2 linked regions of the Homo sapiens genome follow. The protein of the gene in region 2 interacts with the protein of the main gene of each other region in a pairwise test. Each region holds a gene or a part of one and is shown on either strand. Other genes may lie near its edges. The genes, in order: C14orf180 and TEX29.

Evidence for each region.
Region 1: the proteins of TEX29 (region 2) and C14orf180 interact in binary tests that used the Homo sapiens proteins (3 or more experiments, as listed by UniProt).

The regions. Positions count from the first base shown.
Region 1 is NC_000014.9:104,586,251-104,590,056, forward strand, and holds part of C14orf180 (nutritionally-regulated adipose and cardiac enriched protein homolog), read left to right. Parts: intron 1-164; 5' UTR 165-180; coding exon 181-291; intron 292-1,498; coding exon 1,499-1,628; intron 1,629-2,023; coding exon 2,024-2,059; intron 2,060-2,327; coding exon 2,328-2,533; coding exon of another isoform or gene 2,534-2,628; 3' UTR 2,629-3,806.
Region 2 is NC_000013.11:111,327,142-111,330,947, reverse strand, and holds part of TEX29 (testis-expressed protein 29), read right to left. Parts: intron 2,766-3,806; coding exon 2,655-2,765; intron 1-2,654.

The sequences.
Region 1 (3,806 bases), on a different chromosome or scaffold from region 2:
GGGGACACCACAGAGGAAAAGTGGTGTCTGCTCAACAGCGTGGCCGGTCGCAAGCCCGGGAAGCCAGCCTGGCTTCCAGGAAAGAATTTTCTCCTCCTCTTATTTTCATTCCTCTGAGTGCCACTTGTGCAGTAAATAATAAATAACGTCTCTGCTTATCTTAGGACCATGTTCCAGTAAATGAGGACTGCAGCAGGAGCCGTGAGCCCTGACTCCCGGCCAGAGACACGACGTCAGACCAGAAAGAATGAGGAGGCCGCGTGGGGCCCGCGGGTGTGCAGGGCAGAGAGGGTAAGGCGGGCCGCTGGGACACAGCTTCTGCAAGCTGGCCTTCCACTGGGGGCTGGAGGGGGCAGGGAGCAACAGACGTGGAAAGGCCATCCTCCACCCCAGGAATCAGGGGGTGATAGGAGGAGGGCAGGGGGATCACTGAGGGCTGGGGGGAGCAGCGGGGGGCAATGGGTGCCTTGAAGGATTTGGTCTGGCAGAGGAGATTGGAGGCCCCCAGGTGGGGCACAGCTTGGCAGAGGAAGTGGGAGCCATGGAGGGCTGTGGAAGAGGCAGCTCAGGGAGGAGGGTGTTGGAGGAGGGAAGAGGGTGGAGAGAGGACAGGTCAAGACTGTCACCAAGGGTCAGTGTTAGGGTTAGGGGCCCAGACCTCAGACCCTGAGGCTCCATCCAGCCTCTGAGGCACTGCCAGGCTGGGGCATGCCACAGGCACAGCAGGAGCTGGGCCAGACTCAGCATGGGCAGGCCTCACGCCCTCGCGGGGCAGCCTCGCCAGATGCCGAGCAGCAGGCTGTGTACAGCGAGCAATGCCCCAGCCAGGAACAACCTCAGAGCTGGCCCGGCTCCCAGGGTGCCTCAGCCCCAGTTGTCACCATGTCACAGACAAGGATGCTGAGGTTCACAGCAGCCCGAAACTCCCACTCCATCTTCCAGACTCAGGCTGGGCCCATACACGTGAGCAGACCAGCAGAGAAAGGGCCCAGGTAGGCAAATGTGTAGGAGCTGCCCCCGCCTGCAGCCTGGGAGGCTCGGCCCCAGGGAAAAGGAGGCCGAGGCCACCAACCAGCCCTCCTCACGGCCCTGGCCCGGCCCCTGCCCCATAGAGCTTGCAAACTCTGGCCCCTTAGCCAGAGCCCCTCTGCCATTGCAGCCCCCTCCCCCTGTCCACATGTCCTGGGGACCCTGTCCAGCAGCCTGCATCCGAGACAGCGGGCAGACGAAGAGAGGTTCAGTGGGGACTTGCGTGAAGAGACGGGGTCAGGAGGGGCTCCTGTCTTGCCTGGGCCCCTGAGGCTGAGTCTGGCTGCCCTGCAGTCCCTGTCCAGGAGCTGCCCCTCACCCTACAGGAAGTGACAGGCCCAGCATAGCGCACCAGCCAGGACAGGGTACAGGTTCCAGGACGGTGCTGCTGGGCCCCACATGGCTCAGACCTGGGTACCAGCGGCCTCCCGCCGGGGACTCACCAGTCTGCTTCCCGCCCCCACACCAGGAGGACAACAGGAAGTGCCCCCCCTCCATCCTGAAACGGAGCCGGCCGGAGCACCACCGCCCAGAGGCCAAGCCCCAGAGGACCTCGAGGCGCGTGTGGTTCCGAGAACCCCCAGCGGTGACCGTCCACTGTAAGAGGGCACCCGCAGCAAGCAGCTGGGAGAGGGTGGAGTCAAGCAGAGGGAGGCGGGGACACCGGCCACACCCACACAGCTCTGGCAGGGCCCAGGACATGGGGGGGCCGTGGCCACCTGCCTTCAGTGCCACAACCCCTGTAAGACCTGGGCCCCTGGGGTCATCTGGACACACAGTCCCGGTCCATGAAACAGCAACTGGAGGAGAACATGAGGGCGGATTCTCAAATCATGACTGTCCCTTTGAGGAAGTGTCAGGACCGGCTGGGCCTGGGTCTCTCACTGATGAATAGTCTCAGGGTCCTTCGGGGGTGCAGGGTGAGACGAGAGGGCGGGGGCGCCCGATGGACTGAGGCAGGTGCCCCCAGCTGACTCTCCATTCTCTTTCGCAGACATTGCTGACAAGAACGCCACAGCCACTGTCAGGGGTGAGTTCTGAGCCCACATCCCTGTGCCCCACTGCCCCCTCCGTGGGTGCACCCACCCTCACTCCCTCCCCGAGGGAGGTGTCACAGGGCCAGGGCCTCTAAGGAGTCCCCAGTTGGGGAGCTCTTGTTGCAAGGAGACCCCAAGAGGCTAGGGAGGGGCCATGGGCATGGACAGGGTGGAATCTCCCCATCCCTTCCCCACCAGCCCCAGTCCTCCAGGGAAGGGTCGCGCTGGCTGGCGCTGACCCTGCCTGCCCTCTGGCCGCAGTGCCCGGCCGGCCCAGGCCACACGGCGGCTCCCTGCTCCTGCAGCTGTGTGTGTGCGTCCTGCTCGTGCTGGCCCTGGGCCTATACTGCGGCCGGGCCAAGCCCGTGGCAACGGCACTGGAGGACCTGCGGGCCCGGCTCCTCGGCCTTGTCCTGCACCTGCGGCACGTGGCCCTCACCTGCTGGCGCGGCCTCCTGCGGCTCTGACGGGCAGGACGGGCAGGACGGGCAGGGCTTCCAGGAGAGCTCAAGCACTCCGGGGGCTCCGAGACAGCCTGAGCCCTGGCCCTGCTGCTTGGTGAATCATGGGGGCCAAAAGGGGCTGCTGCCTGAGGGCTAACTAGGAAAAGGGGGACCCCGTGGCGTGAGATCGGACATGGGGGGCACAGCAGGCGGCCCCGCCACACTAGTCAGCACAGCCCTCCTGTCTCCTGTGTTGGGTCCATGTGAGATTTTATTAGAAAGAGGATTCGACTGCTAACAGTTGAGGCTCCCCAGGCTCACCCAAAGACCCCTCCCTCGTCCCAGCAGGAACTCCTGCTGCTGCTAGGGCCTGGCCCGGCCATCACCGTGTGCACCCTCTTGAGGAGGGGGACACACTGCCCGTGTTCAAGGGGCTGCTCGGAGGAGGCAAACCCAGCCTTTTGCGATTATGGCTTGTGGGGAATCCAGACCTCGAAACCCCACGGGGAGGGAAGGGTCTGGTTGTCAAGGTGGGTCCCTTTGATGTGAGGTGCCATCCTCTGAGCCCAGGTCTGACCCCCCTACCCAGCCCCGTGAGTCTGGAGAGGCCCCAGGGAAGGACCCCTCATCAGGGGCGGCTTCAGGTGTAGAAGCCGAGGGGACAGCAAGGGGCCCAGACACCCCCGACCTTCAGAACAGCCATCTGTGCCCAGCTCTGCAGGCCAGGCACACCCAGCTGAGCCCGGGGCCAGCCAGCACCACCCACCAGCTGGGGCCTGTGGGTCCCGGAGACCGTCTGTGGTTGTGGCTTTGTCGCCGGATTGCAGAGCTGAAGGGAGCCCTGTGGATGACAAACACCAGGGGCCTCTCCAGACCCTACGTGGGGGGAGGGCTGAACAAAGCAGGGAGGCCCACGGTTAGACACCAGGCAGAACTGCCCAGGAGAGACACAGGGACAATCAGACCAGCGTCCTCGAGGTTAGCCTGAGGCGGGTGGGCACGGCCGACCATCCACCCGGTGGTTCCTGTTTGTCCCACCACTTAACTGGGAGACACTGTTTTATTAAAACACACCGTGGCTTCCTTCAGTCTTGGTGTTTTTATAGAAATGAGAGAAACCAGAACCGATTTGCTAAGGAATCGGCCTCAGTGGCCAAAGCGGATGTCCTGGGCGCCTGGAACCTCCCCATCTCCTGCAGGCCTGGGAGTGGATGTGTCCACTCGGGCAGGGGCTGACCAAGCCCCTGGGTCTTGAGGGATGCCCGGCCGGCTCCCTTTGCCCTGCAGTCAGGGTGTG
Region 2 (3,806 bases):
ATAGATGGGTCAACAAAATGCGGCATACCTATACAGTGGACAATGACTCCGCAATAAACAGAAAGGAAGTACTGATAGCTACTACAACACGAACGAACCTTGAGAACTACGTGAGTGAAAGAACCACAAATCATGTGGTTCCATTTATATGAAATGTCCATAATACGGAAGTCCATAGACAGATGAGTGGCTGCCAGGGGCCAGAGAGAGGGAAGGATAGGACACGACTGCTAATGGGCGTGAGGGTTCTTTCTGGAGTGGTACAAATGTTCTGGAGTTAGTGGTGATGACTGTACAACTGTGAATATACTAAAAGCCACTGAATTGTATACTTTAAAAGGTGAATTTTATGGTATAGTATCTTGGTAAAAATAATAGCTGAAGCAATTTCCAACCGATTTTATCTGTAGTCAGAGGAAGGCGTGAGATCCTGGGAATCCCAGAGGCTCCTGGAAGTGGAGGCTGGGACAGCGAGGGGTCTGGTCCCGAGTCTCTAAAGCCAGGATCTGCAGGAGCCGTCGTCATCAGAAAACCTTCCCAACTATCAGTGGTATCCATTGTGACCTCTCATTTGTCTCTGAGGAGCGAAAATTCATCTTCTTTTGATGAGGTGCCAAATCCTCACCACGAAGCAGGACAGACACCCTCTCTGGAGCAAGCCAGAATCCCATCAGCACTTTCTTTCTTGACTGATTTTGTGCCCAGAATATCCCTTTCATCTCAGAGGAGCTGGCTTAAGGCTTTACGTCTGTAGGACTGGGCAGTCCCCACGTAATCAAACAGTGTAGCCTGAAAATGAGTTTTAAAACTTTTTTTTTCCTTTTTCTCTTCTTCCCCTAGTCTCACGATGCAGAAAGCTTACTGCAAAAAACTTTTGTTCTCCTTAGTCTTAAAATATAGCCTTGAAATGTACTTTCTTTGCAACACCATGGTCTCCCTTTCTCACCACGCGCCCCCTAGCCCCATGCACATTTATCTAACTGTGTGCTGGTATTTAATTATGGGCTTACTTACAAGTTCTAGGGGCTCATCTTGAGATAGACCAAGCATAGAGAACCAGCTGCAAAATGCCAGAGATCACCTGAAGGCGGTGAGTCTACAACCAGCCATCAAGATGATGACACCTCCCGCTCCAGGTGGGCTGTGGCTTGCGACAGCCACTGGAACGAGACCCTCAGACCTTGTAGAAGCACCCCTCCCATGTGCCTCCCATTCTGAGTGCCTCTTTTTAAGCCCCTCTTCCCAGCCTAAAGTTGGAAGCGCAAGTCAGCCACTTCCCCACTGCTAGCTTTGGAAATAAAGTCACTTTCCCTTCATTTGTTACAGGCTTTGCAAGCGGTGAGCAGCCAAGCTTGTGCTAGGTTCCACCAGCAGGTCACTACTTGGAAATTTCCATCAGTCACTCATTCCCATCAGTCACTAACGTTTCCCGACTTTCTAAGCCCTACTAGATACAGGGAACGAAGAGGACCTGGTGCCTGGTCTCTGAAGGCTCAGTCTAGCGGGAAATGCAGGAGAAAGAAGTAAAAGGAAGAAGAAGTGGCCCTGAGCTGCACAAAGCCAGGGGCCTTTACTCACTTTGGGGTGGTGGGGGTGGAGAAAAGAGTGGCTTAGGACAGGGAGGGTTTGGAACTCATCTCCAAGGAAGCCTAGAGCTGTGAGAGCTCATCAGCCACGTCCATCATCTCCACCGGTAAGGGCTGCACTGTTCCCTCCCGAGGGCGTGCTGTGCAGGCTGCTCCCCTCCGTGCTGCTGTCCACCCCTCCCCACGCAGCACAAAGAGCCCCTTTACCCTCATTTCCAAAAGGGGCCTCCACAGGACAAGGAAACACATGAAGCTTCACGTGGACCTTGATGAGGGTTTGGAAATGAGAAGACCTCAGCGGCGCAGGCCAGTGCACTCACAGGCGAGAATATGCTGAGGAGGTGGGAGCCCAACGCCCTTCACGCGCAGGCCATCCTGGTTTCTTAACCTTCTCCCACCTCCCTTCGAACACATTTTACAACTAGCCATGGTCCTCTGAAGGGCGCGCCTCCCTCCGGAAGCCTTCACGGGGATGGGGAGTGGCAACGCCTCCGGCGCCCTTACCCACCCACTGGTTGCCTGTTGTCCTCACTTCACCCCGTGCTGCTTGAGGGGCTTCCAGCAGATCCTCACGTCTGGTCTGGCTTCTAGTCTGACGTTGAAGCAGCCCACGGAATCCCCAGTCAGGGCCAAGCTCACAGAGCCCCTGGTGGACAAGGTCCGCTCCACCCTGATGGGCTCACCCCACACCCGGCCACTGGCCCGGGCCCTGCCGGCGCCCCATGTTTCTGCAGCACTATTTCCCCAAATCCAGCCTCTGCAACCACCCAGAATGGCCAAATTCCTCCATGAAGGGGGCCTCCATTTGTCCCCGTCCATGCCCTGCTCAGCCCATCTGGGAATGGAACCCCTATGGTGGCTTACGTCACATTCACAGGCCCTCCAGCCCAAACCCCACTCCAAGTCTACTGTCCCCACTAAGACGGAGCAGAAGAGTTGGCCAGAGAACAATACAAAGGTGTTTCCAGCAAACAGAGACCCCGAGGAAGGGAGACAGGCAGGGCAGTGGTCGGCATGGTCACCAGCTACCTCGGCTTCCGCCACGGGGTGGCCGGGGCGTCTACTCACTGGGAACCGCTTTCTTGTAGCAGACGCCTTCGTAGAAGCAGCACCCGAGCTCCTGGCATCGGTCCCTGGAGACGTTGTAGTCACAAATGTCATACAGAGGAACGTCACACACTGCAAAAGCACAGACATACACAAGTGTCACCCCCGAAAACAAAGCCACTCTGCTCTCCGCTAAAGAACCTGGGAACCGGTGTGGGGAGCAGCTGTGGGTTTGTGTTGTGGTTTTGTTATTTTCTCAATTACGCATCCTGCAAATCTTTATTTGAAACTAAGATCCAGAATGAATTAAATTTCTGAGCAAAATAATGTCAAGTTAATTACACAGAATAATGCAGGGGCCTCTAACGATTAGGAGATAATACATTTCCGCGCAGCAGCGCCAGGCACGGCGCACGACAGAGCCCACAGAAGCGCGGGGCTCACACAATGGCTGCTTGGGAGTTCGGGAGGGAACGTGTAATTATTTCACACTTAAGCATACAGGAGTTAGAATTAGCAGCATGGCCTGAGGATTATTTCAGAATTTTAAAACTTGAATCAAAAGGACAGAAAGTTTAATGCCAGTTTTGACCCAAAGGGAGAAAAAGGGAAGACAATGAGTGTGCGGCGCGCCGTGGGAGGTAAAGGAAGCAGGGCGGGGAGAGCTCCTGGCAGACGACCCTTTCCAGAGGAGTTCAGCAGCCTCACACATGTTCAGCCCCGAGGGATGTGGCTGCCTTGATCGGCCATGGGCCACCGAGGGACTGGGCTGGATGATGAAGGGGGTTCCTGCAGGTGAGGGCCCAGGGTGCCCGCAGAGACCTTTGCTGGGTGGACTGCAGTCCCACAAAGCCAGGCTCCATGCCCCAGGCCAAGGCTGCACCCAAGCCACTGGGGGTCTTCCCTGGCCCCTCTGTAAGTTGTTCCACTGGGACAGGGGCCGGGAGGGGAGCTGCCCGGCCTTCTTGACCCTTGAGGAGCCCCATTTGTGTTCCTTAGGGTTGATTTAGTCTTTCAGGTTCCCCTTCTCAAGACACCCCCATTCCAGGTTTGCAAATGCTGCGGCTGCAGCCCTCATCCTCTGTCAGAAGCATCATGGACACGGGAGCCCTGCCGAGGCGATGCCGCACCTGCCAAGGCAGAGTGCACAGGGCAGGCTGAAGTCACCGGCTG